Linked DNA regions of Homo sapiens. The protein of the gene in region 1 purifies or fractionates together with the protein of each later gene. This does not show direct contact. Each region holds a gene or a part of one and is shown in the gene's direction. Other genes may lie near its edges.

Region 1 (4,506 bases):
TATGACGGCCCATTCTGTAGGGGTCACTGACTTGGCAGGAAGCCTAGGGTAGGACCAAATCAAAGTGGCTAACCTTGCCTTACTCCCACTGGGGTACTTGCCTTACTTGTTCCTGCCTTCAGGGCCTTTCCTGTCCCATTGTCAATCCTAAAATAGATTTCCTCCTTGGCTCCCTAGCGAGATTTATTTACAAAGTTGTTTTCTGGGCCTGATCCTCATCGTAATTGTTTATCTGGCAAAATAGCTGCCTGGCCCCCTCTTCCCTGCTCCTGACCCGTGTGTTCAGGAAAGTCCTAGAGGTTCAAAGACTGATAAGGTTTAATGTCTTACTCACTCCATGGAAATTTGCATCTTTGGCAATACTATATCTAGTGCTTTCCCTCAATACTATAAGCAGTATGTGACCAACTTAGAAAATGTAGATTAGATTTTTTTTTTTTTTTTTTAGTTTAAAGAAAGGAGAAAGCACCCATAAGATCACCACCCCAAAACCAAGCCTGACTAATACTTGGACAAGATTCCAATCATCCTTCTATGTATACATTTTACAAAGTTGAGCTCACGGACTCTATGAAATACTGTTTACATTTCCTCAATATTACTAAAGTGTCTTCCGTGAGCATGAAATAGTCTTCATAAAGATTTTGTATGACCATATAAGAAGCCATTTTGTGGCTGTACTATATACATTATTTAAGCAAAATATCTAACAACTAAAAATCAATCTTTTTTTTCTTTTAATGGGAGACTTTTGTACTCTGTAAGAGGAATTTAGCATATTGGTTTACATTGTGAGGTTTGGATTTAGACCTGGATTCAAACCCTGTCTCCCCTGCTTAATAGCAATGTGACTTTAGACAAATACCTATTTCTTTATCTCCAATGTGGAGATAATACTCTACTTCACAGGGTGATTATTGATATTAAATGAGGTAGTACATATGAAGTGCCTGGTGAGTAGCAAGTCTTGATACAGGAAAGCTGCTGCCTGTTACTATTACTACTGCTACCATTACTACTGAGTTTTCAGCCAAAGGACTAAATCTCTAATTATGAAATTTCAGCTATCATTGACCTAGCTTCGAGGATCTATTTGTAAAGGTGGTATTTTTTCTAGTGCCCGTGAAATCATGTGTGTGGCTGTCTCTTATTTTGGTCTGGGCCTGTTTCTGCACCTTTGTCCTCCCACTGAGTTGGCTTTGGTAGCCCCTCTATGCCACCCATACCCACCTCTACTGAGGCCCCCTTCCCCTCTTGAGCCTAAGGAAGCCAATGAGACATAAATATAGGAAGCATTAGCAATGCAAGGCAGTATATAGAACCACCGACATCAGCACTGAAATGGTCTTTGGACCATTTATCTAGTTTAATTGGCTGCCCTCCATCCCATTCCTGCCTTTGCACAGGTAAGGGAAACTAAGGCCCAGGAAAAGGACAGGAGTTATCCAAGGTTGTAGATTTGACCAGCTACATGCTAGGCTTGGAATCCAGTGTTCTTCTTTGTTTTTAATTTTTATTTTAAGTTCAGGGGTACATGTGCAGGTTTGTCATAAGGTAAACTCATGTCATGGGGGTTCATTGTACAGATCATTTTATCACCCAGGTATTAAGCCTAGTACCCATTAGTTATTAAAATATTTTTTCCTGATCATCTCCCTCCTCCCACCCTCCACCTTCTATGTGTCTGTGTGTTCTCATCATTTAATTCCCACTTATAAGTGAGAACATGTGGTATTCTACAACCTCTGCCTCCCGGGTTAAAGCGATTCTCGTGCCTCAGCCACCAAAGTAGCTGGGATTACAGGTGTGCACCACCTTGCCTGGCTAATTTTTGTGTTTTTAGTAGAGATGGGGTTTCGCTATATTGTCCAGGCTGGTCTTGAACTCCTGGCCTCAAGGGATGCGTCCATCTTGGCCTCCCAAAGTGCTGGGATTACAGGTGTGAGCTACCATGCCCAGTCTGGCATTTGATTTTCTGTTCCTGCATTAGTTTGCTAAGGATAATGACCTCCACTCCATTCATGTTCCTGCAAAGGACATGATCTTGTTGTTTTTTATGGCTGCATACTAACATACATTTTCTTTATCCAGTCTACCATTGACTGGCATTTAGGTTGATTCCATGTCATTGCTATTGTGAATAGTGCTTCAATGCACATGCGCGTTTATGTATTTTTATGATAGAATGATTTATATTCCTTTGGATATATACCCCATAATGATATTGCTGGGTTGAATGGTAGTTTTGTTTTCAGGTCTTTGAGAAATTGCCACACTGTTTTCTACCATGGTTGAACTAATTTACACTCCCACCAACAGTGTATAAAGGTTCCCTTTTCTTTGCAATCTCACTAGCATCTGTTATTATTTTTTTTTGATTTTTTAATAATAGCTATTCTGACTTGTGTGAGATGGTATCTCATTGTGGTTTTGATTTGCATTTCTCTAATGATGTAAATTTTTTATATATGCTTCTTGGCCACATGTATGTCTTCTTTTGAAAAGTGTCTCTTCATATCCTTTGCTCACATTTTAATGGGGTTGTTTTTTTTCTTGTAAATTTGTTAAAGTTCCTTATAGATGCTGGATATTAGACCTTTGTAAGTTGCATAGTTTGCAAATATTTTCTCTGGTTCCGTAGGTTGCCTGTTAACTCGATAGTTTCTTTTGCTGTGCAGAAGCTCTTTAGTTTAGTTAGATCTCATTTGTCAATTTTTGCTTTTGTTGCAATTGCTTTTGGCGTCTTTGTTATGAAATCTTTGTCCATTCCTATGTTCAGAATGGTATTACGTAGGTTTTCTTTGAGGGTTTTTATAATTTTGAGTTTTACATTACTTTTACATTTAAGTCTTTAATACATATAGAGTTGATTTTTATATGTGAGATAAGGATGGGGTCCAGTTTCAATCTTCTACATATGGCTAACCAGTTATCCCAGCACTGTTTATTGAATTGGGAGTCCTTTTTCCATTGCTTGTTTTTGTCGACTTTGTCAAAGATCAGATGGTTGTAGGTGTGTGGCCTTATTTCTGGGCTCTCTATTCTGCTCCATTGGTCTCTGTGTCTGTTTTTGTACCAGTACAATGCTGTTTTGGTTACTGGAGCCCTCTAGTATCATTTGAAGTTGGGTAGCATGATGCCTCCAGCTTTGTTCTTTTTGCTTAGGATTGCCATGGTTATTCAGGCTGTTTTTTTGTTTCCATATGAATTTTAAAATAGTTTTTCCTAGTTCTGTGAAGAATGTCATTGGTAGTTTGATAGGAATAGCATTGAGTCTATTCTATGAATTGCTTTGGGCAGTATCACCATTTTAACAATATTGATTCTTCCTATTCATGAGCATGGACTGTTTCTCCATTTGTTTGTGTCATATCTGATTTCTTTGAGCAGTGATTTGTAGTTCTTCTTGTAGAGATCTTTCGCTTCCCTAGTTAACAGTATTCCTAGATATTTATTCTTTTGTGGCAGTTCTGAATGGGATTGCCTTCCTGATTTGGCTCTTGGCTTGACTGTTGTTGGTGTATACGAATGCTAGTGACTTTTGTATGTTGATTTTTGTACACTGAGACTTTGCTGAAGTTATTTATCAGATTAAGGAGCTTTTGGGCCGAGACTATTGGATTTTCTAGATATAGGATCATGTCATCTGCAAACAAGGATAGTTTGACTTCCTCTCCTCTTGCTTGGTTGCCCTCTATTTCTTTCTCTGGTCTGATTGCTCTGGCCAGGACTTCTAATACTATGTTGAATATGAGTGGTGAGAGAGGGCATTCTTGTCTTGTGTCGGTTTTAAAAGGGAATGCTTCCAGCTTTGGCGCATTCAGTATGATGTTGGTTGTGGCTTTATCAGATGGCTCTTATTATTTTGAGGTATGCTCCTTCAATACCTAGTTTATTGAGAACTTTTAACATGAAGGGGTGTTAGATTTTATTGAAAGCTTTTTCTGCCCTTTAGATTATCATGTGGAACCCAGTGCTCTTTGTCCTGATATTAATTTGCCTCTGCAATTGTTTACCAGTGCTATAGATAATCCAGGTAGATCAGAGGTGAGAAGAGAACCCTGTGAGATGAAGCTGTCTAGTATAGATGGAAAGGCCTTCCTGGAAGAAGTACAGTTATCATTTGCCTGCTCTTAGTTGTAGGCTGATCTGCATTCTTTTTTAAAAATTTTTTTGAGACAAAGTCTCGCTCTGTTGCCCAGGTTGGAGTGCAGTGGTGTGATCTCGGCTCACTGCAACCTCTACCTTCTGGGTTCCAGTGATTCTCATACCCCAGCCTCCCAAGTAGCTTGAACTACAGGTGTGCACCACCATGCCCGGATAATTTTTGTATTTTTAGTAGAGATGGGGTTTTGCCATGTTACCCAGGCTGGTCTCGAACTCCTGGCCTCAAGCAATCCACCCACCTCGGCCTCCCAAAGTGCTGGGATTACAGGCATGAGGCATTGCACCCGGCCTTCATGCTTGTCTGTTCTTTGGTAAGTATTGCTCTGTGGCTGTGTTGTT
Region 2 (5,016 bases), on another chromosome or scaffold:
GGGGAGAGACTGTGGGCCTGGAGATAAAACTTGTCTCCTCTACCACCACCCTGTACCCTAGCCTGCACCTGTCCTCATCTCTGCAAAGTTCAGCTTCCTTCCCCAGGTCTCTGTGCACTCTGTCTTGGATGCTCTGGGGAGCTCATGGGTGGAGGAGTCTCCACCAGAGGGAGGCTCAGGGGACTGGTTGGGCCAGGGATGAATATTTGAGGGATAAAAATTGTGTAAGAGCCAAAGAATTGGTAGTAGGGGGAGAACAGAGAGGAGCTGGGCTATGGGAAATGATTTGAATAATGGAGCTGGGAATATGGCTGGATATCTGGTACTAAAAAAGGGTCTTTAAGAACCTACTTCCTAATCTCTTCCCCAATCCAAACCATAGCTGTCTGTCCAGTGCTCTCTTCCTGCCTCCAGCTCTGCCCCAGGCTCCTCCTAGACTCTGTCCCTGGGCTAGGGCAGGGGAGGAGGGAGAGCAGGGTTGGGGGAGAGGCTGAGGAGAGTGTGACATGTGGGGAGAGGACCAGCTGGGTGCTTGGGCATTGACAGAATGATGGTTGTTTTGTATCATTTGATTAATAAAAAAAAATGAAAAAAGTGAAACATGTTGTCTTGACTGGACACCCCCTCCCTGAGGGTCCACGGGTGAGAGGAGCTTGGGGGTGAAAGGCAAAGTCATTGGTAGGGTGGGGCACGTGGGGCTGGAGTGGTTGGCTGTGGAAGTGAATGGGGACTCACTTTTCCCTATGGGTTTGGGTTGAGGGTGGTACCAGGTCCAAAAGGGCAACATGGTCCTCTCTGAGGGACAGGCTCCTCTTTGCCAATGGGCGGGCCCTCTTATAGGAGAGGAGGGTATGTGTGCACACTTGGGGAAAAGGATATTAGTCCAGGTGTTCTGAGCCCTGGCTGGCACAACCAGGGAAATGGGGTGGGTGGGGGTGGGGGGCGGTTAGAAACAGGCTGACTGGCCTGAGTTTGAATCTCAGATCTGCCACTTATCATTGGAATTTTGGGCATGCTCTTAGTATCAGTTTCCTCATCTGTAAAATGGGGGATATGAATATTACTTCCACAGGATTGCCAGGAGGACAATGCCACACATCATGTAAAGCACTTACAGAGAGCCTGACACATGGTGAGTGCCCAGTGACCCAATATCATTCCCGCTGGAGTGGGCAAGTGGGCCCCTCTTTGGTTTCAGCTGCTGCCCTAGTGTAGGGAGGTCGAGCTGGCCAGTTTCCTTGGGTATCTTAGGGAAACGGTGGGGTGTGGGGAGTTTCCAGAGGAGTCTTCTGGTGTACATGAGGGATCTTAGGGCTGGGTCTCAGTAGAGCTGATGGGTCAGACTAGAGACAGAAGACCAGGGAGCCAGACAGGTCCCTGGCATCTGCCTTCTGATTTGAGCACAGAAGTCGGGCGTTACTCCTGAAACCCCAGTGGCAAGGAGGTTTCTGTGGCCAGTTAGGCTGGCCTGGAATGTTAACTGAACTTGTCTGTTGGGAGCCCCTGAAACTGGGATCCCAGTGACCCAGGTGAGAAAGGCAGGTGATAGTCCTTCCCTTCCTTTCTCTACCCTGTCAGGTTCTGCTCAGCCCCTGCGGGGCTGGGAGGGTGGGGTTGGGGGAGTGCCAGTTTTCACCACTCCCTCTGGGATGGGGGTAGAGGGGTGTGAAAAAAGGTGTGTATCCCTTTAACAAGGGCCCAACCCCAGGGCCAAGTCAAGAAGGAGCTCAGCCACTATCTCCCCACCGAGCCAGCTCAGCGGGCAGGGCTGGGAGGGAGTGGGACAGATTCTGGGAGTGCAGCGGGGAGGAGTCCCGGCTGGGCTGAGCGCAGGGAGCTGCTTGGCAGTGCCAGAGCCCAGGCCCCAGAGCCCTGCTGGAGAGGAGGCAGACTGAGGCAGCAGGTGAGCACCCTGGGCCCGGCCTGGGAGGTCTTCGGCTGCCGGAGGGCCCCACAGTATTGGGAGGCCAGGAGAAGGGGCAGTGAAGGGGGCCTGGGGAGAGGGGCCTGCCAGAGAGCAGGCAGGAAGATTTTGGTAATTATTAACTTTCTCCCACAGGCCAGTTTAGGAATGGGGAGTCCTGGGGGGTTGGGGGCTGGGTGAGGCCTTTAGAGGGATGGATGGGATGGTGAGACCCCCTCCCTGCCGCAGCAGCTGACGGAGCTCCTCTCCAGGGGCAGAGTATTTGGAAGCTTTGACCACAGCTACTCGATCCTCCCCAAAAGGAGAGGACAAATGCGTGTTGGTCTGGGTTGGGGGTGGTCAGAGCTTGGACACAGGCCTTGCTGGGCTCTGGGAGCTGTGTCCTAGGGGAGGTGATGGGGTCCAGAAGGAACCAGGCAGTTTCCAGGGAGCCTGAGATTCCGAGAAGAGGAGGCGGGGGCTGAGGTGGCGTCCCCTCTACCTCACGACCCAAGCAGACCCCACTGTGTTCCAGGAGCTGTTCCTTGAGAGGGATGATGAGATCTGGGAGGAACCCGAGTGAGGCTGTGGGGAGCCTGCAAGCTCCCTGGGAGAGGGAAAGATAGAGAGAGGGGGGCTGAACCTCGGCAGCTCCTCCACCTCAGGACCCAGGCAGGCCCCGGCTTGAGCTGCTTTTCTTGGCAGAGCCACCTGCACTATGGGAGCCTTCCCCTGCCCAGCCCAGTGGGGATGGTGGTGAGGGCAGGGGTGCTGGGGAGCTGGCTCTGCCTTTCCCCACATTCTAGTAAGTGTTGTTGAGGCTGGGGTAGCTGTGTGTGTGTTGGGGGAGGCGGGGGCAAGATCCACACTGAACTCCTCCAACTTCACTTGCCTGGAAAAATTTCAGAGGCTGGCTTCTTGCTCCAAGAACTGAAGTGAGTGGAAGGGTGATGGGTCACCCAAGCAGAGGGGATCAGGAATGGCCGAGGTCCTTGCTCGGTGTGTGTGTGTGTGTGTGTGTGTGTGTGTGTGTGAGAGAGAGACAAAGAGAGTTAGACGCAGAATCCTGTGAGGATGGTAAGGGGTGAGGCAGGGCCAAGCAGGCCCCACTATGCTCCGGGAGCTGTTCCTGGAGAGGGCCTTGTGGAATTGGAGAAAGAACACAGGAAGGAGCAGAGAATGGAACAGCTGAGGCTGGAGAAATTTCATTTGAAACAGCCTTGCTGATAGAGGTGGCATTGTCAGCCCAGTTCGGATGGCACCTTCCCTATATATTGAAGTTAGAGAGGACAAATGAGTAAATGAAAAAGGGAATGAATGAATGAATGTGCAAGAGAGTGAATGCATTATTGAATGAGCAAGTGAATGAATGAGAGTGAATGAATGAGCCAATAAATGAATGAGTAAGCAAACTCATGGTGCCTAAGTGAGCAAATGAATTCCAGGTAGATGGAAGGGACACAGAGAATCCATACTTAGGCTTGACAGTGGGCTAGGCTCTGGAGAGAACAGTGACCAGGAGGGACAGGAGTCTAGGGACACATCCCAACACTTGGAAAAAACTTAAGACTCCAGAGGTGTCTGTGGGGTGAGAAGAGAAGGTGGACTTAGGACGGTGTGGTGGATGTTTGGAGCTCCAGACGGAAGGAGCCTGGGGATGCTAGGGGTGGTTAGGAGGCATTTGGAGGGCGTGGAGCCCAGAACCTGGGGGTGGGAGGGTGGGGCTGGAGTGGCTGGGATCCAGGGGCATGGAGTCAGGGCAATTTGGGCTTTTGGAGAAGTCAGCAAGCTGGGCTGAGGTGGGTGGGGTGGGGGTGGGAGACTGCTTGTTGCTCAATGATGAATCAGCCAAGGGGAAGACAATGAGAACATTGGGGTAGGGCTGGAGGCCTGAGGTGAGAGGGCCCATTGGAGGACACGTGGTCCTCCCATTCCCACATTTCTGGAAGGCTCCTGTGTACACTGTCCACTCAGGCCAGGATCTACCTGTGGCAGGGCCAATGCAGGAACGACCTCCTGCTTGACCTTTCTAGGAAGCGGCTGATGGGATAGAACATCTGCCCGACCCCTGAACCAGGAGACCCGGGGCCTGGCTGGTGGGGGAATGGGGCAGGCGGGAGGAGCAGGTGGCTTGTGGGGTGGGTGGGGTGGCAGATCCTGTCTCCTGGCCTCCAGGGGAGGGAGGCAGAGGAGGATAACGATCCCTGCCTGCCTGCTACCCTATCCTTCCTTCAGAAAAAGCTCCAGAAAAGCACTTGTCAGATGGTTATCTCCAGCACTGTCCATTTTACCGAAGGTGGGGAGCGGGTGGATTCCTGGGAGGAGGGGCTGGGAGCTGAAGCCCTGAGGCACTGGAGCTCCCGCTCTGGGTCTCCCAGTACTCCTGGGAGCAGGTGGCAGAGTCATCTCTGGGGCTCATCTGTGTCTTGGCCACTTGGCTGCTGCCAGAGGCCAAGCAGGGGTTGAGTCATGGTATTGAGGAAGGCCAGGAGGAGACAGCTCAGAGAAATGACTCCAAGGAGGCAGGTGGTGGGAGAGGTGGGCTAGCTTGTGGGGAGAGTGGCAGAGGGAGGTGCACCACCCATTTCCTTCCCTCTTCCTCTCCCTGACCGTTTCCCACAAGATCCCTCATTTAGGGAACAAGGATTGGGATGGTTAAGTGTGGGGAGTTTCTCTGAATTATCTTCCCACTTCCAAGTCTTGGTTGGGAGTGGACTTGGCACAGTCCTTCCAGAAATGGGCACGGTTTTCAGAATCACCTGGAACACTGGTCATGAACCTGAGCCACCTCCAACCCAAGGGCAGCACAGCAGACAGACCACAGGTTGAACAATGGTCTTCCTCTTCAACTGTAAATGTTAAAGTGTTTGTATGAAAGTCTTGCAGCGGTATAGACAGGGAACCACGCAGTTACACACTTAAATAAAAGAATATGGAAAAGCGTGTGGCTTCCTGCCATCCTGGTACTCTGCTCCATCCTCCCAGCCAAGGACCAGAGGGTTTGGGCAGGCGGAGGAGGGAAGACAAGGGCAGGATTTCCCTTCAGAGAAGCCGCAGCCTGACTCTTCCTCTCAACTCTCCTTCCTTCTTGCTTCCTGGCCTGTTCCCTCCTG
Region 3 (4,506 bases), on another chromosome or scaffold:
TGAGGCTACTTCCCATTATTGTCATGGGAAATTGTAGGAAAGTGCACATTCCTTAAGAATGGAGTAAACTTCCTCATCCTCTTCCCAGGCCCCCTCCCCTTTGTTTGTGTTTTGTGGTGAAGATGACCCCTCCCTGCAAACCATCTGGGTGCTGTTGCTGGCATCAGCTTGCTTCTAACTGCATGAAATGATTGTGGTGCCTGCTGTGCTGAGAACCTAGCACTGGCACCAAATGGGTGCCGAGTGCTTACACACCTGCTCTCATTATGCCTCACACTTATCCATGTCATGGGGGAGGGTTCTGAGGCTCAGAGAGGGACCAGGCTGCCTGGCCAGCTGCCCACCTCGTTGTGCCCATCCTTGTCTACCCCTTGAAGTGACCTCTGCCCCTCCGCACAGAAACCCTTCGGGACAGTCCAGCCTTCTGCCTCTGACTCAGGGCTTTTCCATCTGCACTGCTCCGTACTTACTTCCTGCGACTGTACTCCCTGCCAGAGCCTCTTTTCCTGGCTCTGACCTTCCTCCTAGGAGGCGTGCAACGTTTGTCCCCTTCCCATCTAGCACTACGTTTTCTTTCTCTCACTCAAACTCCCCTTTATATATTTGTTTGTTTATTTATTTAGAGATGAGGGTCTCCCTCTGTTGCCCAGGCTGGAGTGCAGTGGTGCAATCATGGCTCACTGCAGCCTTGAAATCCTGGGCTCAAGGGATCCTCCTGCCGCAGCCTCCCAAGTATTCGTATTATAGCTGGGACTCCAGGTGTACGCCACCACACCCAGCCCAAACTCCCATTCAAAGCCTGTGTGCTCAGAAGCCTCTGCAGCTGCGCTGGTTTCATTCTCTCACTGTGGAGCATCTGCTGCGAATCAGGTGCAAGGCTGGGCTCTGAGGGCACAGTTCAGCCACCAGAGTTCTGGGTCTTTCAGGGAATGAAATTTCCCATCTCTGCCCAACCACAACACAGCAAAAACATTTCTCCCTTTGCATTTCCCTCAAAATACTAGGTTGGTGCAAAAATCACAATTACTTTTACACCAACCTAATAGCCCCCAAACCCTCTGACCCAACCCTCATATGGGGGACTGCCTGAAACTTCACTCTGTCTATTCACAGGTTGTCTTAGGCTTTAAGCCCCTGGAGGTGGAGACAAGATTTTTAACATCCTCCTGGTTCTAAGACCCTCTGATAAGAGCTCCTTGTGCTGTGTTCACAGGTGACTGCTGGCTGCTGGCAGCCATTGCCTCCCTCACCTTGAATGAAGAAATCCTGGCTCGAGTCGTCCCCCTAAACCAGAGCTTCCAGGAAAACTATGCAGGGATCTTTCACTTCCAGGTAACTTAATGGTTGGCTCAGGTGGTTCCTCAACAGGTCCAGGGGGCTAGGAACAGTCTTCTGGCTTGGCTGGGTTCATCAGTCCCTGGTGTTTGCAGACTCCCAAGACCAATACTGTTCTACAAAGGACATTGGGCGAGAGCAGGAAGCTTCCTGGCTTACCCGTGGCCAGGATGTGAGACCCGGCTGGGATGGCCCTGGGTGGTTTCTTGGGACATGTAAAAGGGAGGTAGAGCAAGGTGTTCAGGAACTAATTCCCAAGTTTAAAAAAAAAAACTGTATTATTTGATGTTTGAGACAAAAACGTTGAAGTTCTCCTCCTTTTATGCCGGTAAATGAGAAATAATACTTGAAAAAGCTGGCTGGGCACGGTAGCTCATGCCCGTAATCTCAGCACTTTGGGAGGCCGAGGTGGGCAGATCATTTGAGGTCAGGAGTTCGAGACCAGCCTGGCCAACATGATGAAACCCCATCTCTACTAAAAGTACAAAAATCAGTTGGGCGTAGTAGTGCAGGCCTGTAATCCCAGCTACTTGGGAGGCTGAGGCAGGAGAATCACTTTAACCTGGGAGGCAGAGGTTGGGAGGCCAAGGTGGGTGGATCACTTGAGCCCAGGAGTTCGAGACCAGCTGGGGCAACATGCTGAAACTCCGTCTCTACTAAAAACACAAAAAAAATTAGCCGGGTGTGGTGGCACGTGCCCTTAATCCCAGCTACTCGGGAGGCTGAGGCAAGAGAATCACTTGCATCCAGGAGGCAGAGGTTGCAGTGAGCCGAGATCGTGCCACTGCACTCCAGCCTGGGCAGAGCAAGACTTGGTCTCAAAAAAAAAAAAAAACAGCCTAAGGTACAGGGCAGAATGCTAAAGAGGCGGGTGTGGATTTGAAAGGATGGACATGCGCCTCTGTCTTCGCTTTTTTAGTGAGGACTTGGCCTGCATAGGAGAGTTAAGGGAGCACCTCCTCCCAGGATGCGCTCATGGAACCTATCCCAGGGGATCAGGGCAAGGGGAGCCAGAGGCAGCTGAGGCTCAGAGTCCCAGTGCTGCCACCAGCTCCTCCTGCAGCCCACCTCTCTTGTTCTGCAGTTCTGGCAATACGGCGAGTGGGTGGAGGTGGTGGTGGATGACAGGCTGCCCACCAAGGACGGGGAGCTGCTCTTTGTGCATTCAGCCGAAGGGAGCGAGTTCTGGAGCGCCCTGCTGGAGAAGGCATACGCCAAGTAAGTTGCCATCCTCCCCTGGCCCCATGGCCTTCCCCCAATGCCCTGGATTCCAAAAAATTCACTCATGCCTGTAATCTCAGCACTTTGGGAGGCCGAGGTGGGTGGATCATTTGAGGTCAGGAGTTCGAGACCAGCCTGGCCAACATGATGAAACCCCGTCTCTACTAAAAATATAAAAATCAGTAGAACTACTCCAGGACTACTTTGAGTGGGAAGTCCTTTTCTATAGAAGGACTTCTTTGGCCAAAATTAGGCTCTAAATGCAAGGAGATAGTGCATGCAGGGTGCCTGGCTGCACTGTACGCTGATAAATGATGTCTATCACCATCTTTAACCAAATGCACAGGAACAAGTTATGGTACTGATTGTGCTGGACTTGAGAAGGAGCTCTACTTCCTTGACAGGACACATTTGTATCAACTTAAAAAAGCAGAATTTTTGCCAATGGGCAGAACTATTCATTGCAGAGGTAGGAAACTTGCCCAGAATAGATGATGTCACTGATTAGCAATGGCTTCCCCATCTCCGCACAGCTGCTTCCCACCCAGGTTGCCCACAGTTGAGTTTGTCCAGTGCTCAGGGCTGCCCACTCTCAGTAAGAAGCCCCACACCAGCCCCTCTCCACAATGGCCCCATGTTGGCTGTGCCGCCCGGCTCCTTCCATTAAAGTGACCCCACTTTAGAGCAGCAAGTGGATTTCTGTTTCTTACAGTCCCAATCCAGGAAGGAGGAGTCAGCTGTGAGAACCTGGAGCCTGACGGATGCTTCTAAGTCCCACTGCTCAATACTGGGGTCAGGGAAGCCACCGGACTCCAGCATCAGCAGTCAGGAGCACTAAGCCCTTGCCAACACCGTGCCTGTTTCTCAGAGAAACTGCTTCCATTATTGAATGGTTGTCCTTTTTTAAGCTATCAATGCCAAACGACCCATTAGTAGACCTCCCCTTTCTTGTCAGGATGTAGAAGGAATCAATACAGGAGGTTCATCCAGAAAATCACTAAGGTCCTTCCGACTCTAAGGTTCTACGAGAATCTTTTTTTTTTTTTTTTTTTTTAATACGGAGCCTCATTCTGTCACCCAGGCTGGAGTGAGCGGCATGATCTCAGCTCACTGCAATTTCCACGTTCTGAGTTTCAGCAATTCTTTTGCCTCAGCCTCCCAAGTAGCTGGGACTACAGGCATGCACCACCATGCCCAGCTAATTTTTTTGTATTTTTAGTAGAGATGGTGTTTTGCCATGTTGGCCAGGCTGGTCTTGAACTCCTGACCTCAAGTGATCCGCCCACCTCGGCCTCCCAGAGTGCTGGGATTACAGGCATGAGCTACCGCGCCCGGCCTGAGATTTTCTTTAAAACACAAAATACCAGGGAAATGGTAACTGTGGACATTATACCTTGCCTTCCTGAGCACCCCGAGCTGGGAACAAGGCCAAGGAGAATGTGAGCAGGGGGTCCCTGGAGCATCAAATCTAGACGGTACTAGGGGGTGGCTGTTTGAGAGATTATAGCATCAGTAGTGTCAAGGGTAGCGGCAGCGTCTAATCCCCTCTTGTAGGATCAACGGATGCTATGAAGCGCTATCAGGGGGTGCCACCACTGAGGGCTTCGAAGACTTCACCGGAGGCATTGCTGAGTGGTATGAGTTGAAGAAGCCCCCTCCCAACCTGTTCAAGATCATCCAGAAAGCTCTGCAAAAAGGCTCTCTCCTTGGCTGCTCCATCGACGTAAGTCCAGGCTGCCTTCCCTAGCCTCACCCCATCTGCTCTTGCTGAAGGGAGGCTCCCACAGTGCCCAAGGGAACCCACTGCTCCTGTGTACAACGTAATGCAGCCCTCGTCCACGTAGGGGCCAAAGGAAAACCTCCCTCCACCCTCTGAAGGTCCGCTGAAAATCAACTGGCAAAAGGAAGACTAATACAAGAAATGGCATACAAATGTATGAATGTGGACAG
Region 4 (4,506 bases), on another chromosome or scaffold:
AAGTTTTGTTTATCTAAAGAATTATTTGTTTATAGGCTGGGTATGGTGGCTTACGACTGTAATCCCAGCACTTTGGGAGGCCAGGGCTGGAGGATCGCTTGAGACCAGTCTGGGCAACATAGTGAGACTCTACAACATTTTTTTTTTTTTAATTTGCTGTGCATGGTGGTACACACTTGTATTCCCAGCTACTTGGGAGGCTGAAGTGGGAGGATGGTCTGAGCCCCAGAGGACCAGACTGCAGTGAGCTATCATCACACCACTATATCTAGCCTGGGTGACAGAGTAAGACCCTGTCTCAAAAAAAGAATTGTTTATAGTTTGAGATAGAAGTTTCATTTTGCCCTGAAGTAAAGGCATACTCACTTTAATGTTGTATTTATAGAGCCGCTAAATCTCGGATTTTCTGTTTACTCTTTAACTGATTTGATTGATCAGTTGAATTATTGGAGGGTCAGCCAGAGTGTTGTTCACCCAGAGCAATATTTTACAAGTGGTGCACACAGAAAGCTAATAAACATGAGAGTGTGCTGTTCATACAAATTAGACAGTACAGCAGGATACAGTATTAAAGTTCACTTTCACACCAATCTTACCAGCCCACCCCATTCCTGTCTCTTCTCCCATGAACCTTGAGGTTACCACTGTTTACACATGGGTATTTGTCTTTGCACACCATTTATGTGCATGTTATATTTTATACAAATAAAAACAAGCTGGGGAGATTGTTTAATTTTGTTTTGCTTTTTATGTAAATGAGATCTTGACGTTGTTTTGAACCTTGCTTTTTTTGTTCACTTGACATATCTTGGTGAATTTTCCATTTCACTGCAGATAGATGCATCTCGTTCTTTTTTTTTTTTTACATTCTTTTTTTTGAGGAAGGGTCTCGCTCTGTCACTGAAGTGCAGTGGTGAGATCTCAGCTCACTGCAGCCTCTGCCTCCCGGGTTCCAGTACTTCTCGTGCCTCAGCCTCCTGAGTAGCTGGGACTACAGGCGTGTGCCACCACACCCAGCTAAGTTTTGTATTTTTAGTAGAGACAGGGTTTCACCGTATTTCCCAGGGTGGTCTCGAACTCCTGACCTCAAGTGATCCTCCCGCCTCGGCCTCCCAAAGTGCTGGGATTACAGGCATGAGCCACCATGCCTGGCTGCTTTTTTTATTTTTTTTGAGATAGGATCTCTGTCACCCACGCTGGAGTGCAGTGGTACAATCTCAGCTAACTGCAACCTCCACCTGGTGGGTTCAAGCTATCCTCCCACCTCAGCCTCCTGAGTAGCTGAGACTACAGGTGTATGCCACCATGCCCAGCTAATTTTTGTATTTTTAGTAGAGACAGTGTTTCGCTATCACCCAGGCTTGTCTTAAACTCCCGGATGCAAGTGATCCGCCTGCATTAGCCTCCCAAAGTCTTGGGATTACAGGCGTGAACCACCACCCCCGGCCTCATGTCATTCTTTTTTTTTTTTTTTTTTTTTTTTGAGACGGAGTCTCACTCTGTAGCCCAGGCTGGAGTGTAGAGGTGCTATCTCGGCTCACTGCAAGCTCTGCCTCCTGGGTTCACGCCATTCTCCTGCCACAGCCTCCCAAGTAGCTGGGACTACAGGCACCCACCACCACGCCCGGCTAATTTTTTGTATTTGTAGTAGAGACGGGGTTTTACCGTGTTAGCCAGGATGATCTCGATCTCCTGACCTTGTGATCCACCCGCCTCGGCCTCCCAGTGTGCTGGGATTACAAGCATGAGCCACTGCGCCCGGCCCATTCTTTTTAACCTTTGTGTATTTTTCCATAATCGAGATTTAATATATTTTACCAATTCTCTGTTTTTATTTGTTTTCCGATTTTTTAATCATTGTGAACTGTCATCATTGAACATCTTAATACAAGTATCTTTGTCTGTAAATGTGGGTATTTTGATGGGATTGAATGAAACAATGTTGAGAAACATAGCCAAGTTCTAACATTGATAGGAATAGAGTAATAAGTACCATCTTCTACCCATTTCTCTATGGGTTTCATGGTCTTGCTTTCACATTGCTTCTTCTGATGGATTTTCCTAAGTCTTAACCTTCACGTCATCAGTAACAGTACCTTATTTGAGACTGGGGCACTTGGGAATGACTGCCCCCCAACCCCCGCCCCCATTATCTCCTTAGGTACTTTTCTGTTTGTCTTACTGTGTTGTCGTATTTACTCTAGAACACTTTCCACTCTCTACTGATATGTCCTCCTCTGCCATTTCAGGACCTCCCACCCTCCCCCACTGAGCTGCCTTCCCAGTGATGAAAGAAAAAATGTAAAAGCCTGAAAACCCTTCTTCTTGATTTTTAATTTTTTTTTTTCCCTCTAAGACCTTAACCACTCTGGATAGTATCACGGGGTATCAGTAGAGTGTGCTAAACAGATGTGTACTCTGCAGCTTCTTTGCAGGTTTTTTGTCACATTTTTCAGTCAAGTGTTCCAGCTTTGTGCTTGTTCATTAGAGTCACCTGTGACTACAGAGATTCTGAAAGTTTGAATCAGGGCCTGGGAATCTGTACTTTGAACAGTACTACAGGTGGTATTTATGCCTAGGCAAGTATGGGAAACAACTGTGCAGAAGGATAAAGACGTTCTTATCTATGACTAGACCATCTGAATGATTTGGCCTTTGAAGGTGACTCAAGGTTGAGCCTGGATGTTGGAGACTTGGTGCTATAGACCAAGGAAGCTGCCAAGTATTTCGCTGGTTCCTAATCTCATGAACATCAGAATCACCTGAAAAACATTTAAAGCTACGAATGTCTGAATTCAGCTTCAGAGACTCTAAATCAATAGGAGAAACTTAAAGCTTCCTAGATGATTCTAATAACCAGCCATGTTTGAAGACCAGACCACCAATGCGTACAAGAAGTAAAGGATTTGGAGTCAACATTTAAACCTTGGTTCTTTCACTTTTAATTCTTATGAACTTGGGCAAAAGGATTAAAATTCTACTTTGGTATCTTTTGAAAGAAAACAGAAAGTGGACATTTTAACTATAAGTTTCTTATCAGCCTACAATCAGATGAAGGAAACTGGTAAAAATTTCTCACTGTAATAATTGAAGAGTCTGATATTCCACCATACTTATTTTATGGATGAAGTAATATTTGGGATAATATAAAAGACTTGCATAGATATGTATATCAAATTAATAGTTTAACTCGGATGTGAGCTTTTAATTTCTTATTTAGTTATTAAGCATACTGCCTCCTGAATTAACTGCTTTTCATTTTCTTCAAGATCTAATTATCATGGACCTGCGACAGTTTCTTATGTGCCTGTCCCTGTGCACAGCCTTTGCCTTGAGCAAACCCACAGAAAAGAAGGACCGTGTACATCATGAGCCTCAGCTCAGTGACAAGGTTCACAATGATGCTCAGAGTTTTGATTATGACCATGATGCCTTCTTGGGTGCTGAAGAAGCAAAGACCTTTGATCAGCTGACACCAGAAGAGAGCAAGGAAAGGCTTGGGTAAGGTACCACCTCTCAGGGGTCTAGTGTGGGTAATGACATTCTTTATAAAGGCTAATTCTTTTCTTTTCTGGCTCAGTTATGAGTAAAGTTATATTGAACTATTAATACATCTTCTGAAAGCTAACCATGGAATTACTACCTCTAAAATTTCATTAAATGCCTGATTTCATACATTTTTAATTGAATAACAGTTGGTGCCTCATTCTACAAAGCATCATTTTTGCATAAAAGTACCAAGTACTGCAAGACCCAACTTGAACTGCATTATCTTGCTACCAGAAGAACATAGCATGGGGGGATTTCTCATCTCTTCTCATCTCTACTGCTTTTAATTTTTAAAAACTATCTGTGCCCTACTGACCTGGCACAAGCCAAGTCTTTGATGGGCTAATAAACGGCACATTGGATCCCTATAAAGTTTATGATTTCCCGAGGTGTCCTTCACCCTCTTTATTTTCATTCTCAGATATTTGTTTAATTAAAAAACAAAAATCAAACCAACTTTGTCTTTTAGAAAATTGTAACTTAATGTCTGAGTATGAGTTACTGTTTCAGTAACAGCAGGGCCATAGTCAGGTTCTTTGGCTCTCTCGGTAGACATCTTTTGTCCTGAAAAATGGATTTGGTAGAATCCCAGTTGATTATTTCTAATTGGGGATCTGAGAATGTCTTTTTTGGTCCTTCCAAAGCCTTCCTTTTGAAGAAAATGCAGGTCAATTTTGTAAAAATATTCTTCTCAGTGAGCACTGTTGGTGCAACTTCCTGATTGTATTCAAGAGATTTGTGTGGAAAGTTGTGCCACACATAGCAATTTCTAAAAATATTTTGCCTTGATGGGTAGCATTTTGATCATAAGACGTTGTAGGATTTGCTTTGGAAGATGCTGCAGAATAGATGTATTTTTTCATTGGGTTATCTACTGACTGAAGGGTACAATGTTTTATTTTTCAACATTGACAGAAATAATAAAGATATTTTGCTATGTAGAATGAGCACTGTCAC
Region 5 (3,383 bases), on another chromosome or scaffold:
CCACAGCAGAGCCTTTGCCAGTGTGAAAGCCACTGTCTTGTGTTTTACCATTCAGGTCACCTGCCAAATGATTCCTCTAGAGTGAGTATCAGCATATTACAGTTTCTGAGCCAGATCTGCCCTGTTGTCTGCTTTTCTAAACAAAGTTTTATTGAAACAGAGCCTATTCATTTGCATCTTGTCTATAGCTGCTTCCCTGCTATAACAGCAGAGTTGCATAGTTGCAACAAAGCCTAAGATGTTTACCATCCAGTCTTTTGCAAAAAAAGTTAATGAACATCTGCTCCAGACAGGTGCTTTTCTCAGATCAGATTCCGTTAGTTTCCTTGGGCTGCCACAACGAAGTACTGCACAAACTGGGCAGCAGAAGTTTCTTCTCTCACAGTTATAGGAGCTAGAGGTTTGCAATCAAGATGTTGGCAGGATTGGTTTCTTCTGAGGGAGAATCTGCCCCATGCCAATCTCTGCCTCCATCTTCACATGGCATTCTTCTTGCGTGTCTGTGACTTCACACGGCTGTCTTCCCGCTTTGTGTTTCTCTGCGACACTTCTTTTCTTAGAAAGACACCAGTCCTACTGGATTAAGGTCCCACCCAACTCCAGCATGACCTCGTCTTAACTACTTACATCTGCAGCAACCCTCTTTCCAACTAGGGTCATACTCTGAGGTGCTGGGGGTTAAGACTTCAGCATATGAATTTCGAAGAGACACAATTCAGCTCATACCACAGGTCTAGAAGATACAAGTATCTAGTGCCCGGCATCCCTGCTTTATAATCCCAACAGAGCCCTTCTCTCTGTTCCCAGTTTGGGAAAGTGGGAACCTGTGCTCTCGGGATGCCAAAGTTTAACACAATTTAATGGAGAGAAATAAATAATTAAACTAAAATTACAATAGATTGTGATGAGAGGTGTGGAAGGGACAGTATGAGGCATCCCTGAAGGGATAGGAAGGGGACTAGAGCTCTTTAGAGCAAATAGCAGCTCAGCTGAGCTCAACTGAAAAGACAAGTAAGAAGGAAGTAGACAGGTGAAGGAGAGAGGAAGAATGTTCCAGGCAGAAGGAAAAACACATATGAAGACCCAGAAATTGTAAAAAGCCTTCAGCCCAGATGTTCAAGGGGAGTGTGATTAGGTTTAAGAAACTTGCCAAGGCCATACAGTTTTTCAGTTGTGCAGCTGAGATTCAAAGTCCAACTTCAGAGCCCAGACCCCTAAGCACTCTCCTGTGAGGGCGAGATACAAAATTACTTAGAAAAAGGGGTGAAAGAAATTACACAAAATGCGAAGAATGGTTATGTCATGGTGGCAAGATTGTGTGTGATTTTGTTTGAAGCTCCCTTTTAATTTTCAGACCGTTTTCCCTCTGTGTTTTATAATGGGGAAAAATTAATTTTACTTTGTTAATAATTAATATGGAAGAAGTTATTGAGAGAGAGACAAGGAGAAAAAATGGGACCACTCATGCCTGATGCTCTTAATTTAATTTGATCAATAAAGTAAAAGTAAAGTAATTTTAGGAGAGCAGGAGGTAGTAAATGTGGGCTTGGGTAGAGTGAAGAGTGTCTGGTGTAACCATAGTAAGAGGTCACTAGATAATAAACGAGGTGAATAAAAGAACTGCCAGGTAGTAGTGTGGGCTCATTTGAAAATAAATTACAATTAATGAAATTTATCTTCATATATCTACAAATAGAGCAAAAATGTTCTGATGCAGCTATTATCATTCTATGTGAAAATATGGAATATAAATCTCTGGCTACTCTATATTATAGTACCATAAATAAGTACAAATATATGTGGGCAAGAATTGGAATGGAACAAAGAATAAAAAAATTGATGTGTAAGGCTAGGATTTTTTTTTTTTCTGAGACGGAGTCTCACTTTGTTGCCCAGGCTGGACTACAGTGGCACGATCTTGGCTCACTGCAGCCTCCGCCTCCCGGGTTCAAGCGATTCTCCTGCCTCAGCCTCCTGAGTAGCTGGGACTACAGGCGCACGCCACCACGCCTGGCTAATTTTTTGTATTTTTAGTAGAGATGGGGTTTCACCATGTTGGCCAGGATGGTCTCGATCTCCTGACCTTGTGATCCACCCGCCTCGGCCACCCGAAGTGTTGGGATTACAGGCGTGAGCCACCGCGCCTGGCCAAGGTCAGGATATTATACATTTTTCCTCTTTTGTTCCTTGTCAAAATGTTACTGTAGTTGAAATGTAGTCTGCAAACTTTTCCTAGCACACATGTTTATTCAGTTCTGTGACTCTTTCTGCTATGCTGCTATGTAGCCCAAGAGAATACTCCTGGTGTGAGTATCAAAAGTGGCAGCACGTGCTGTAGTGGCTCACACCTGTAATCCCAGTGCTTTGGGAGGCTGAGGCAAGAGCTTCTCTTGAGGCCAGGAGTTCAAGCCCAGCCTGGGCAACATAGTGAGACCCCTGTCTCTACAAAAAAAAAAAAAAAAACTTAACTTAAAAAAAAGGCAGGAGCTGAAGAGGTCTCCAAGGACAAATAATACACTTGATAATGATCACGAGACTAGCCAGCAAGTCTGATGCTTTGTCAGAATCTTTGGTTGAGCCAAAATTTGTCCACAAAAGTGTGAGGATGCTGGTGACTGACTCCAGCCACTGCAGGAGTGAGTTCTGTCCTGACTATGGAACGACTGTGACTGTGACCCTCCAGGGTCCCATTCGTGTTGTGTTTCTCAGGCTCTCCTTATTTTTCCTCTTTTCTCCCTTTTAGATATGCCATCTCTATGGCCCGAAAAATTGGAGCAAGAGTGTATGCCCTGCCAGAAGACCTGGTTGAAGTGAACCCCAAAATGGTCATGACCGTGTTTGCCTGCCTCATGGGGAAAGGAATGAAGAGGGTGTGAGGCCCAATGGGGCTGGGTGGGAGGCGGTGCACTCACTCCTGACTGCCCGGCACAGATGCTCCAGGGATGATTCAAGCCATTCCAAAGTTCAACTTGGTGACACTCTATAAGATTCCAAAAAGCACATATTAGTGCAGCCAAGTAGCCTCTCCTGTATTTAACAAAAAGTGCTTCATTCTTTGCAGGAGGCCCAACCTCCTATATATAGGTTTCTATTCTTGATTTATTTGCTTCTTCGAAAATCTAGAGGAAAAGAAAGAAGTTATTTTCCAGGTACCCTTCTCGCTTTTGCCATTAGCCAAGGATAGAAGCTGCAGTGGTATTAATTTTGATATAATCTTTCAAACCAGCTTCATGTGGCTTCCCTTTTCTTTGTTCAAGATGAGGGCCAGGAGGGGAAACATCACACCTGCCCTAAACCCTGTTCCTGGAGGTCAGCATTTGATCTGTTGCAAGCCCCTCTTTCTGTCCCCTCTTCCTACCCTGCCTCCCTTGACTTTGCTCCTC
Region 6 (4,506 bases), on another chromosome or scaffold:
ACAAAAAATTAGCCCAGCACTTTGGGAGTCTGAGGTGGATGGATCACAGGGTCAGGAGATCGAGACCATCCTGGCTAACACGGTGAAACCCTGTCTCTACTAAAAATACAAAAAATTAGCCGGGCGTGGTGTCGGGCGCCTGTAGTCCCAGCTACTTGGGAGGCTGAGGCAGGAGAATGGTGTGAATCCGGGAGTCGGAGCTTGCACTGAGCCGAGATTGTGCCACTGCACTCCAGCCTGGGTGACAGTGAGACTCCGTCTCCAAAAAAAAAAAGAGAAAAAGAAAAAGAAGTACAGTCAGCCCTCTATATCCATGGGTTCTGCATCTGTGGATTTGCACAACTGCAGATCTAAAATATTCAGAAAAATAATTCCAGGTTCTAAAAAACAAAACTTGAATATGCCACGCTTGAGTACTGCATTGAATTCATGCAAATTAAATGATAGGTAGGCATTGTATTAGGTATTGTAAGTAATCTAGAGATTATTTAAAGTACAAGGGAGAATGTGCATAGGTTATATGCAAATGTGACCCCATTTTTATAAGTGACTTTAAGCATCAGCAGATTTTGGTATACAGGGGAGATCCTAGAATCAATCTCCTATGGACAACAAGGGATGACTGTGTACTAATGAGTAGACTTCAGTTTGATTTTTTTGTTTGTTTGTTTTTTGTTTTTTTTTGAGATGGAGTCTCGCTCTGTTGCCCAGGCTGGAGTCAGTGGCGTGATCTTGGCTCACTGCAACCTCCGCCTCCAAGCGATTCTCCTACCTCAGCCTCCTGCATAGCTGGGACTACAGGTGCGTGCTGCCACACCTGGCTAATTTTGTATTTTTAGTAGAGACGGGGTTTCACCGTGTTGGTCAGGCTGGTCTTGAACTTCTGACCTCGTGATCCACCCGCCTTGGCCTCCCAGAGTGCTGGGATTACAGGTGTGAGCCACTGCACCCAGCCAGAATTCAGATTTTTAGTTGAGTCAAGTAAATGAGATTATTAATAAATGAGTCCCAGAGAATATGGGATTTCTTCTTAAAAAGCCAGAACATAAATTTTCTGCACCTAGATCAGTATATTTTAAGGAAATTTGCCTTACTTGTTGTACTTATGAATTTCTAAACCTTTCAGATCCTCTAACGTAGCTTTCATTAGATATCCCAAAACATATTTGCCAGCTGTTGAATGTAATACCACCTCACAGTCTGGGTAAGGACAGTTTATGACAAGTGGACAGGCAAGGAGGAGACTGGTGTTAAGCATTTTAGTGATGATGCCCATACACAGGTAACTTTTCAAAGTTTATTCTACTCTATACCAACAGAAATCAGAGTTGCTATTTCTCTAGAAGAAAACATACACACACCTGTGCCAAGGGAATAACAGAATGGATTTATGCTTTAACCTTCTTTTTTTCTCTCCCACCCATCCCTTCCATATGTTTGTTTTTCCAGAATTATCTTTTGGGGAAAAAAGAAACAGCTGAGATGGCAGATAGAAACAAAGAAGTCCTCTTGGAGGTATGACAACCCCCATTTTCCTGCACATTTAAAAATTAAAATATTAGGCCAGGCATGGTGGCTCACGCCTGCAATCCCAACACTTCGGGAGGCTGAGGTGAGTGAATCACAAGATCAGGAGTTCAAGACCAGCCTGCCCAAGATGGTGAAACCCTGTCTGTTAAAAAATAAAAAAATTAGCCAGGCGTGGTGGTGGGCGCCTGTAATCCCAGCTACTCGGGAGGCTGAGGCAGGGAATTGCTTGAACCCGGGATGCGGAGGTTGCAGCGAGCCGAGATTGCACCACTGCATTCCAGCCTAGCAACAGGGTGAGACTCTGTCTCAATAAAATAAATAAATAAATAAATAAATAAAATAAAATATTAAATACCTTTTTGAAGTCAAGTATGTCAGTGTTCTATATTTGTAGTTACAATTTTAATTAAAGAAGCCTGTGTATTCTTTGATAGTATGAGGGAGAGAGTTCAACTGTGTGAACGTGTTAGGCCACTGAAGACCCTTTATTATTTTGCCAAGCCATATTCTAGTGATCTAAGAATAATGAGCTTTTAGGGGCTGCCAAGTGGGAGAGGTGGCTGGTCAATGAAGGATGTGGTTTTGCTGTTTTTATCTGCTTACTCAGAGAGAAATTTGAATATAATTAGCTGTTCACAAATTATTTCCAGCCTTATCCTTAAATAATTAAATAATTTTTAAAATCATGATCATTTTTTGGAAAAATATAATTGAATTTTTGGCTGATTTTATAGAACTAAAATCAAATAACTTAGTATACTTGAAAACCTGAATAAACCCTTACTTACCAGCAAGGCAATTAGGAAGCGAAGATCAACATTCAGTTTTCATAGTGATACTAACTACGGTTAAGTAAAAATCTGCCTTGTAATTCCTAATTTTTCTGTACTTTGAGGAGAAAAATTAATTTAGGCCCAAATGTCCTATATTAGTGTTTTCTGAGGATTTCTCTTTTCTTTCACAAATACATGATTGATTTCTTTAATATTAGATTTTTATCAAAGCATAGTGTTTAGAACTTAGAATTTTGAGTGTTTATAGTCCTTTCAACCTAGTATTATTTTTTAAATAAATGCCCTCTTTGTCTTAGAGTCACATAAATGGATAGTTTTTAAATTCTTAAAGTTTAATCATACACTTAGCACGTTGCATTCTTTTAAAATATATTCCTGTTTAGTTTGACAGCTAATCTAAATGTAGAGAAAAAATAAAGTCTAACGCTTGGTTTGCCCTGACAGTTTTATTAAATTTAGTGTAACTGTGCTGTTTGCAAAGGTATTTAACTACTGTTACATGCAACTCAGTTCATGTGTCAACTTAGTTTTTCTCCGAAACAGTGTTTTAGTTAAAAGTTTGTAGGTAAAAATTCAGTATTACATGTATGACTGGCATTTTTATTTAATAAACATTTTAGGATTGCCATAGTAGTTCCAAATTCATATTGTGTTTAGAATAGAAAGTGTTTTGTCTTGTTTTTGTTTTTGTTTTTGTTTTTGTTTTTGTTTTGAGACAGAGTCTCGCTCTGTTGCCCAGGCTGGAGTGCAGTGGTGTGATCTCAGCTCACTGCAATCTCCGCCTCCCAGGTTCAAGCAATTTTTGTGCCTCAGCTGCCCACATAACTGGGACTACAGGCTCGCGCCACCATGCCTGGCTTTTTTTTTTTTTTTTAAGTAGAGACGTGGTTTCACTATGTTGGCCAGGCTGGTCTTGAACTCCTGACCTCAAGTGATCCACCCGCTTCCCAAAGTGCTGGGATTACAGGCATGAGCCACTACACCTGGCTGGAAAGTTCTAATTGAGGTTAAATTAGCAGCTTGGTTTTAATATAAAACCATTTTGGTTTAATAACTGTCATGCATTTCACAGGAGTAAACACAACTTTGTTCTGAGAATCCAACGATCATAAGTCTTTGCAAATAATCTTGTTATTTTAGGAATGTTTTTGTGGAAGTTCTGTAACTGTACCAGAAATTGAAGGAGTCCTTTGGTTGAAGGATGATGGCAAGAAGTCCTGGAAAAAGCGTTATTTTCTCTTGCGAGCATCTGGTATCTACTATGTTCCCAAAGGAAAAGCAAAGGTGTGTCCCTTCTGTTGGAATTTGAACTTCCTCATTATGCTAATTGCTTTTAATTTGTATTGAGTATGCTGACAAGGTGAACCCAGGCTATGATTTGTTTCAGTTCGTGGAAGACATAGAATATTGCTTTGTTTATTAATCTATTATAAAGAAGAAGAAACCTGAAAGTTCTTACTTCTCTGGTCACTAGTTGAGCCTATCTCAGTTCTCTTTACCAAATTTGAAATCATAGTTTTATTTGTTGTTTTTTGGGGACTCTTTCTGGAGTAGTTTTGTTTATTTTTGTTTGGGAAGAACAGCACAGCTCTCTGGGATTACAGGCTTTTTTATCTTGTTTGGGTAATATGCTTCTTCTGCTAAGGGCCACCCTGGTGTAGCTATCACTTCGGTGCTTATTGGCACCAGGACTGTTTTAAACTTTTTTACAGTATTATCTCATCTAGTCTTCACAATAGTCCTATGAGCATATATTGTTGCCCCTATTTAACTGGTGAAAACCTCCCCCCAACCAGTTGCGAATCACTATACTTTACATATGCATTATAGGCACTGAACGACTTGATATTTTCTTGTTCTTTCCAGAGAGCTCTATTATACATTATTGTTTTTAATGTACTAGACTATATTAATAGTATCTTTAAAATGCCAACACTCCTTAACAAGTTAGTGTTCATTGTGAATGACAAAACAGTAAGTAAAATGGGCTGCTTTTTTGTTACGTTAATGATTAAAGAAGAAACATTTATGGAGCATCTCATTGTCTCGTGTAAATAGCAATAATTTCTATTTAGTATTAGCAAAAGTAGTTTTGATTCTCACCTAGAAAATGTTAACCAGGTATATTTGCTTGTTTGTGCATTATTATTAATTTTATCTTTTTGGTGTTTTTATCTTAGGT
Region 7 (4,506 bases), on another chromosome or scaffold:
AAGCCTGACTTTTACTAATCAGGAGAGGTAATAAAGGACCTCATGATAGTCTGGTGAGACCTAAAGGGTCTTGATCATTAGGATGTAAAAACTACAGGCTGGGCACAGTGGCTCACACCTGTAATCCCAGCACTTTGGGAGGCTGAGGCAGGAGGATCACTTGAGCCCAGGAGTTCAAGACCAACCTGGGAACTATAGTGAGACCCCCCATCTCTACAAAAAATAAAAAATTAGCCAAGCGTGGTTATATGCGCCTGTAGTCCCAGCTACTCAGGAGGCTGAGGTAGGAGGATCACTTGAGCCCAGGAAGGCAAGGTTGCTGTGAGCCATGAGCATGCCACTACACTCCAGCCTGGGTGACAGAGAAAGACCTTGCCTCAGGGGGGAAAAAAACGCCAACTACGTACTATACATACTATAATAAATGTCATCTTTTAATCCATTTAATTAGGAATAAGATTTTACCTAAGCACATGCCTCTTAGCTTTTCTCAAATTTTAGAGTATTATCCTTATTTAGAAGGAGAATGCCAGTGCAGCTTAGCAGCATCAATAGTATTACTGAGGGCTGGGCATGGTGGCTGTAATCCCAGCACTTTGGGAGGCCGAGGTGGGTGGATCACCTGAGGTCAGAAGTTTGAGACCAGCCTGGCCAGCATGGCAAAACCTCATCTCTACTAAAAATAAAAAAAATTAGCCGGGCGTGGTGCTGTGCACCTGTAATCCCAGTTACTCAGTAGGTTGGGGCGGGACAATCACTTGAACCTGGGAGGCGGAGGTTATAGTGAGCCGAGATCACACCACCGCACTCCAGCCTGGGCAACAGAGCAGGACTCTGTCTCAAAAAAAGAAAAAAATAGTATTACTGAGACTACAGATTAAACTCAATTTCTCCCACTATACGCTCACAACATGATTCCGTAGGATTTTCCCCCACACATTAAGCAAGCAGTTAGTTCTGCAGTGGTGGGCACCACAGGACTGTCCTCTAGTTCAGTTCAATTCTGACACTGTCTACCTGGAGACAGCGTCACATCCCTAAGGTTGAAGGCTGGCTTACAAGACTGCCCCCAAGTTCTGATGCCAACTGTAAGCCTCAGTTTTACCTGTGCTTCTGACTGACCAGCTATAAATCAGAGTTCCCACAACTCCCTCCTTGGGTTTGATTAATTTGCTAGAGCAGCTCACAGAATTCAGGGAGCACTTACTTACATTTACTGGTTTATTATAAAAGATATTACAAAGGATATAGGTGAAAAGATGCATAGCGTAAGGCAGGTGGGAAGGGGCGTAGAGCTTCCACACCCTCTCTGGGTGGATTCCCCTCCAGGACCCTCCCTGTGTCCAGCTTTCTGGAGGCTCCCCAAACCCAGTCTTTTAACTTTTTATGGAGGCTTCATTATGTAGGCCTGATTGATTACATCATTGGCCATTGGTGATCAACTCAACCTTTAGCCCCTCTCCCCTCCCTCTTTCTAGTGACCAGCCACGATCCTGAAGCTGCCTAGAGGTGGCTAGCCATCAGTCAACTCATTAGTATACAAAAAGACACTTACGATAGCAAAAGGGACTAAGACTAAGTATGTATTTCATAATATTAAAATTACTAAAAGACTTTTTTCCATGGCAAAATTGTGTTATAAGGCACAAAAATTGTTTACCACGCTTGAAATTTAGACCAAAAAGCCTTGTGGAAATGGCATAAATAGCAGTTATGTAACTTGGGGGAGTTTTTCTGATCCATATGTATAGTTTAATATGAGAAAATGAAGGAAAAAGTACAGATACATTTAAGTTCACAGTTTGAAGTACAGGTTGAAGGCCAGGTGTGGTAGCTCATGCCTGTAATCCTAACACTTTGGGAGGTAGAGGTGGGAGGATTGCTTGAGCTCAGGAGTTCGAGATCAGCCTGGACAACATAGTGAAACGCTGCCTCCAAAAAAATAAAAATAAAGTACAGGTTGATTATCTCTTGTCCAAAATGCTTGCTATCAAAAGTGTCTTGGATTTTGGATTTTTTCGGATTTTGGAATATTTGCTTTATACTTGTTTATATTTTTTACATTTATATTTAAATATTTCAGATTTTCAGATTTGGAGTGCTTAACCTGTAGTGAATGAGGCTATTGGAATGGGGCATTTGGCTATATTGTAATGTATGTGAAATAATAATCAACTTTTTAAAAACAAAAAAAGACGGGGTTTTTATTCCTTTCAAACTACTCACCTTGAGAGACCGGATCATGATATCAGAGATCCTTTCTTTGTATAAAATTTTCTGGGTTTCCTTCAGGATTTTTTTTGTTTTGTTTTTTTGAGATGAAGTCTCACTCTGTTGCCCAGGGTGGAGCGCAGGGGCACGATCTTGGCTCATCGCAACCTCCACCTCCCCAGTTCAAGTGATTTTTGTTCCTCAACCTCCCAAGTAGCTGGGATTACAGGCACCTGCCGCCCATGGCATCATGCTAGGCCATAGAGAACAAAGGAAACATAATCTAGACTCCAGGAAACTCAGATAGCTATATGACATGGTCATTAAAAACATGGGTTTTGAATTAAATCACATTTCAAGTTTTGGCTAAACCAATTAGTTAAGGAATTTTGGACAAATTATTTAAGATCTTCATCTGTAAAATGGGAAATAACACTTATCTCATAGAGTTGTTGTATTCAATTCTTTCAATATGATGATACACATAAAGAGCTTATCACAACATATATTTGTCTGTCTGTTTTTTAGAGACAGGGGCTCCCTGTGTTTCCCAGGCTGCAGTGCAGTGGCCAGTCACAAGGTTGATCATAGCACATTGTAGCCTGGAGCTCCTGGGATCAAGCAATCCTCCTGCCTCATCCTCTGGAGTAACTGGGACTGCAAGTATACATACCGTGCCTGACGAAATATCACAATATTTGGTGCGTGGTAAGCCCTCAGTAAATGTTAGCCACTAGTATGATATTCTTTAGAATTAACTTCAATCATCATCTTTTCATTAAATTTTTGGAAGTAGACAAAATTCATATGGAGTCAAATTTACTGAGTAAGGTTAGTGATCAAACTGGGAAAATAAAAACAAAGTGTACCTGAAGCGATGGACCCGATTTTCTTGTGAGACTTAAGAATTAGTTTGAAAGCAGAATCCAAAGAGGAATTCCAAAAATTGAATATATTAATAGATTATATTAGTGTAATCTCTCCTTTATATACTGTATAAGTTCTGTAGGGGAGGAAAGGGAGTAATTCCTTTCTGGCCCATCATAAAGGTCATGGCCAACACCCCTGTAACAAAGACAGGTTGACTAGAGAAAAGCATAGCAAATTTATTCGATCAAAGCTTTATGTGTCATGGGAGCCTTCAGAATGAAGACCCAAAAAATGCAGAAAAAATTATCCGTTTTTATGCTTAGGATTAGTGAAGTGTGGACAGCTGTATAGAAATAGGATTGGACAAAATGGGTATGATCTAACGCTAATAGACTGAGTGAGGAAACTCAGCAACACCTACCTCTCCAGATTTCTCTTGGCCTCTCTGTGCAGCATTCCTTCCTCCTGGGTATTGGGTAGGACCCCTATGGAATGAGAGTCTTAATTTCTTTATGGCCAGCTGTTAGAAAGCTGGGAGTTTGCAGGAAGTTTCTGTATAATCACAGCTTATATGTACCCATATGCTTGTGAAGTTATATTATCTTTTAATAGAGATATGAAAAACTCAAAATGTTCTTCCTACTGCCGTACCACACAGTACAATACTTGTGACATCAGACATGTAAGGGTTGTTGCCCCATACACCAGATACTTCTTCAGTGGACACCAGCTGCATGTCCTCTTATTCAGTTCAATTCTGACACTGTCTGCCTGAAGATAGCATCAGATCCCACAGGTTAAGGACTCAGTCCCACAAGAGTGCCACCAACTTCAGATGCCCATTACAAGTAGTAGATTGCCACCTATACTTCTGACCACCAAGCTATAAATTGGGACTCCCACTGCCCCCTCCTTGGGTTCAATTAATTTGCTTGAGTGGGTCACAGAACTCAGAGAAATACTACTTACATTTTCCCATTTATTATAAAGGATATTACAAAATAAACAGCCAGAGGAAGAGTTGCATAGGGCAAGGTACGTGGAAAGGGGTATGAAGTTTTCATGCTCTCGCCAGCATGCCATCTTCCAGACACCTCCACATGTTCAGCTAATTGGAAGTTCTCTGGACCCTGTCCTTTTGGGGTTTTATGGAGGCTTACTTATGTAGGCGTGATTGCTCACATCATTGGCTACTGGTTATCAAATCAATTTTAGCTGCTCTCCCCTCCTTAAAGGTTGTGGGGTTGGGCTTAAAGTCCCAACCCTCTAAACATGCCTTAGTCTTTCTGGTGACTGGCCCCCATCCCAAAGCTGTCTGGGTGTCACCAGTCATCTTATTAGTAAACGAAAGACACTCTTATCACTGTGGAGAACCCAAAGGTTTTAAGAGCTATGTGATAGGAAACAGGAGGAACATCAAATATA

The links.
Region 2: the proteins of MSN (region 1) and S100A16 fractionate together in Homo sapiens (co-fractionation; one large-scale study listed by BioGRID). This does not show direct contact.
Region 3: the proteins of MSN (region 1) and CAPN2 fractionate together in Homo sapiens (co-fractionation; one large-scale study listed by BioGRID). This does not show direct contact.
Region 4: the proteins of MSN (region 1) and CALU fractionate together in Homo sapiens (co-fractionation; one large-scale study listed by BioGRID). This does not show direct contact.
Region 5: the proteins of MSN (region 1) and LCP1 fractionate together in Homo sapiens (co-fractionation; one large-scale study listed by BioGRID). This does not show direct contact.
Region 6: the proteins of MSN (region 1) and RAPH1 fractionate together in Homo sapiens (co-fractionation; one large-scale study listed by BioGRID). This does not show direct contact.
Region 7: the proteins of MSN (region 1) and CNTRL purify together in Homo sapiens (affinity purification with mass spectrometry; one large-scale study listed by BioGRID and IntAct). This does not show direct contact.

What each region holds. Positions count from the first base shown.
Region 1 is NC_000023.11:65,712,119-65,716,624, forward strand, and holds part of MSN (moesin), read left to right. Parts: intron 1-4,506. UniProt on the Homo sapiens protein: Ezrin-radixin-moesin (ERM) family protein that connects the actin cytoskeleton to the plasma membrane and thereby regulates the structure and function of specific domains of the cell cortex.
Region 2 is NC_000001.11:153,609,839-153,614,854, reverse strand, and holds the start of S100A16 (protein S100-A16), read left to right. Parts: upstream 1-1,717; 5' UTR 1,718-1,903; intron 1,904-5,016. UniProt on the Homo sapiens protein: Calcium-binding protein. Binds one calcium ion per monomer. Can promote differentiation of adipocytes (in vitro). Overexpression in preadipocytes increases their proliferation, enhances adipogenesis and reduces insulin-stimulated glucose uptake.
Region 3 is NC_000001.11:223,742,887-223,747,392, forward strand, and holds part of CAPN2 (calpain-2 catalytic subunit), read left to right. Parts: intron 1-1,213; coding exon 1,214-1,332; intron 1,333-2,419; coding exon 2,420-2,553; intron 2,554-4,110; coding exon 4,111-4,279; intron 4,280-4,506. UniProt on the Homo sapiens protein: Calcium-regulated non-lysosomal thiol-protease which catalyzes limited proteolysis of substrates involved in cytoskeletal remodeling and signal transduction. Proteolytically cleaves MYOC at 'Arg-226'.
Region 4 is NC_000007.14:128,745,304-128,749,809, forward strand, and holds part of CALU (calumenin isoform a precursor), read left to right. Parts: intron 1-2,249; exon of another isoform or gene 2,250-3,051; coding exon of another isoform or gene 3,052-3,064; intron 3,065-3,269; coding exon of another isoform or gene 3,270-3,280; coding exon 3,281-3,501; intron 3,502-4,506. UniProt on the Homo sapiens protein: Involved in regulation of vitamin K-dependent carboxylation of multiple N-terminal glutamate residues. Seems to inhibit gamma-carboxylase GGCX. Binds 7 calcium ions with a low affinity.
Region 5 is NC_000013.11:46,127,084-46,130,466, reverse strand, and holds part of LCP1 (plastin-2), read left to right. Parts: intron 1-2,743; coding exon 2,744-2,876; 3' UTR 2,877-3,383.
Region 6 is NC_000002.12:203,454,539-203,459,044, reverse strand, and holds part of RAPH1 (ras-associated and pleckstrin homology domains-containing protein 1), read left to right. Parts: intron 1-1,449; coding exon 1,450-1,515; intron 1,516-3,464; coding exon 3,465-3,608; intron 3,609-4,504; coding exon 4,505-4,506. UniProt on the Homo sapiens protein: Mediator of localized membrane signals. Implicated in the regulation of lamellipodial dynamics. Negatively regulates cell adhesion.
Region 7 is NC_000009.12:121,077,567-121,082,072, forward strand, and holds part of CNTRL (centriolin), read left to right. Parts: intron 1-2,739; 5' UTR 2,740-2,912; intron 2,913-4,506. UniProt on the Homo sapiens protein: Involved in cell cycle progression and cytokinesis. During the late steps of cytokinesis, anchors exocyst and SNARE complexes at the midbody, thereby allowing secretory vesicle-mediated abscission.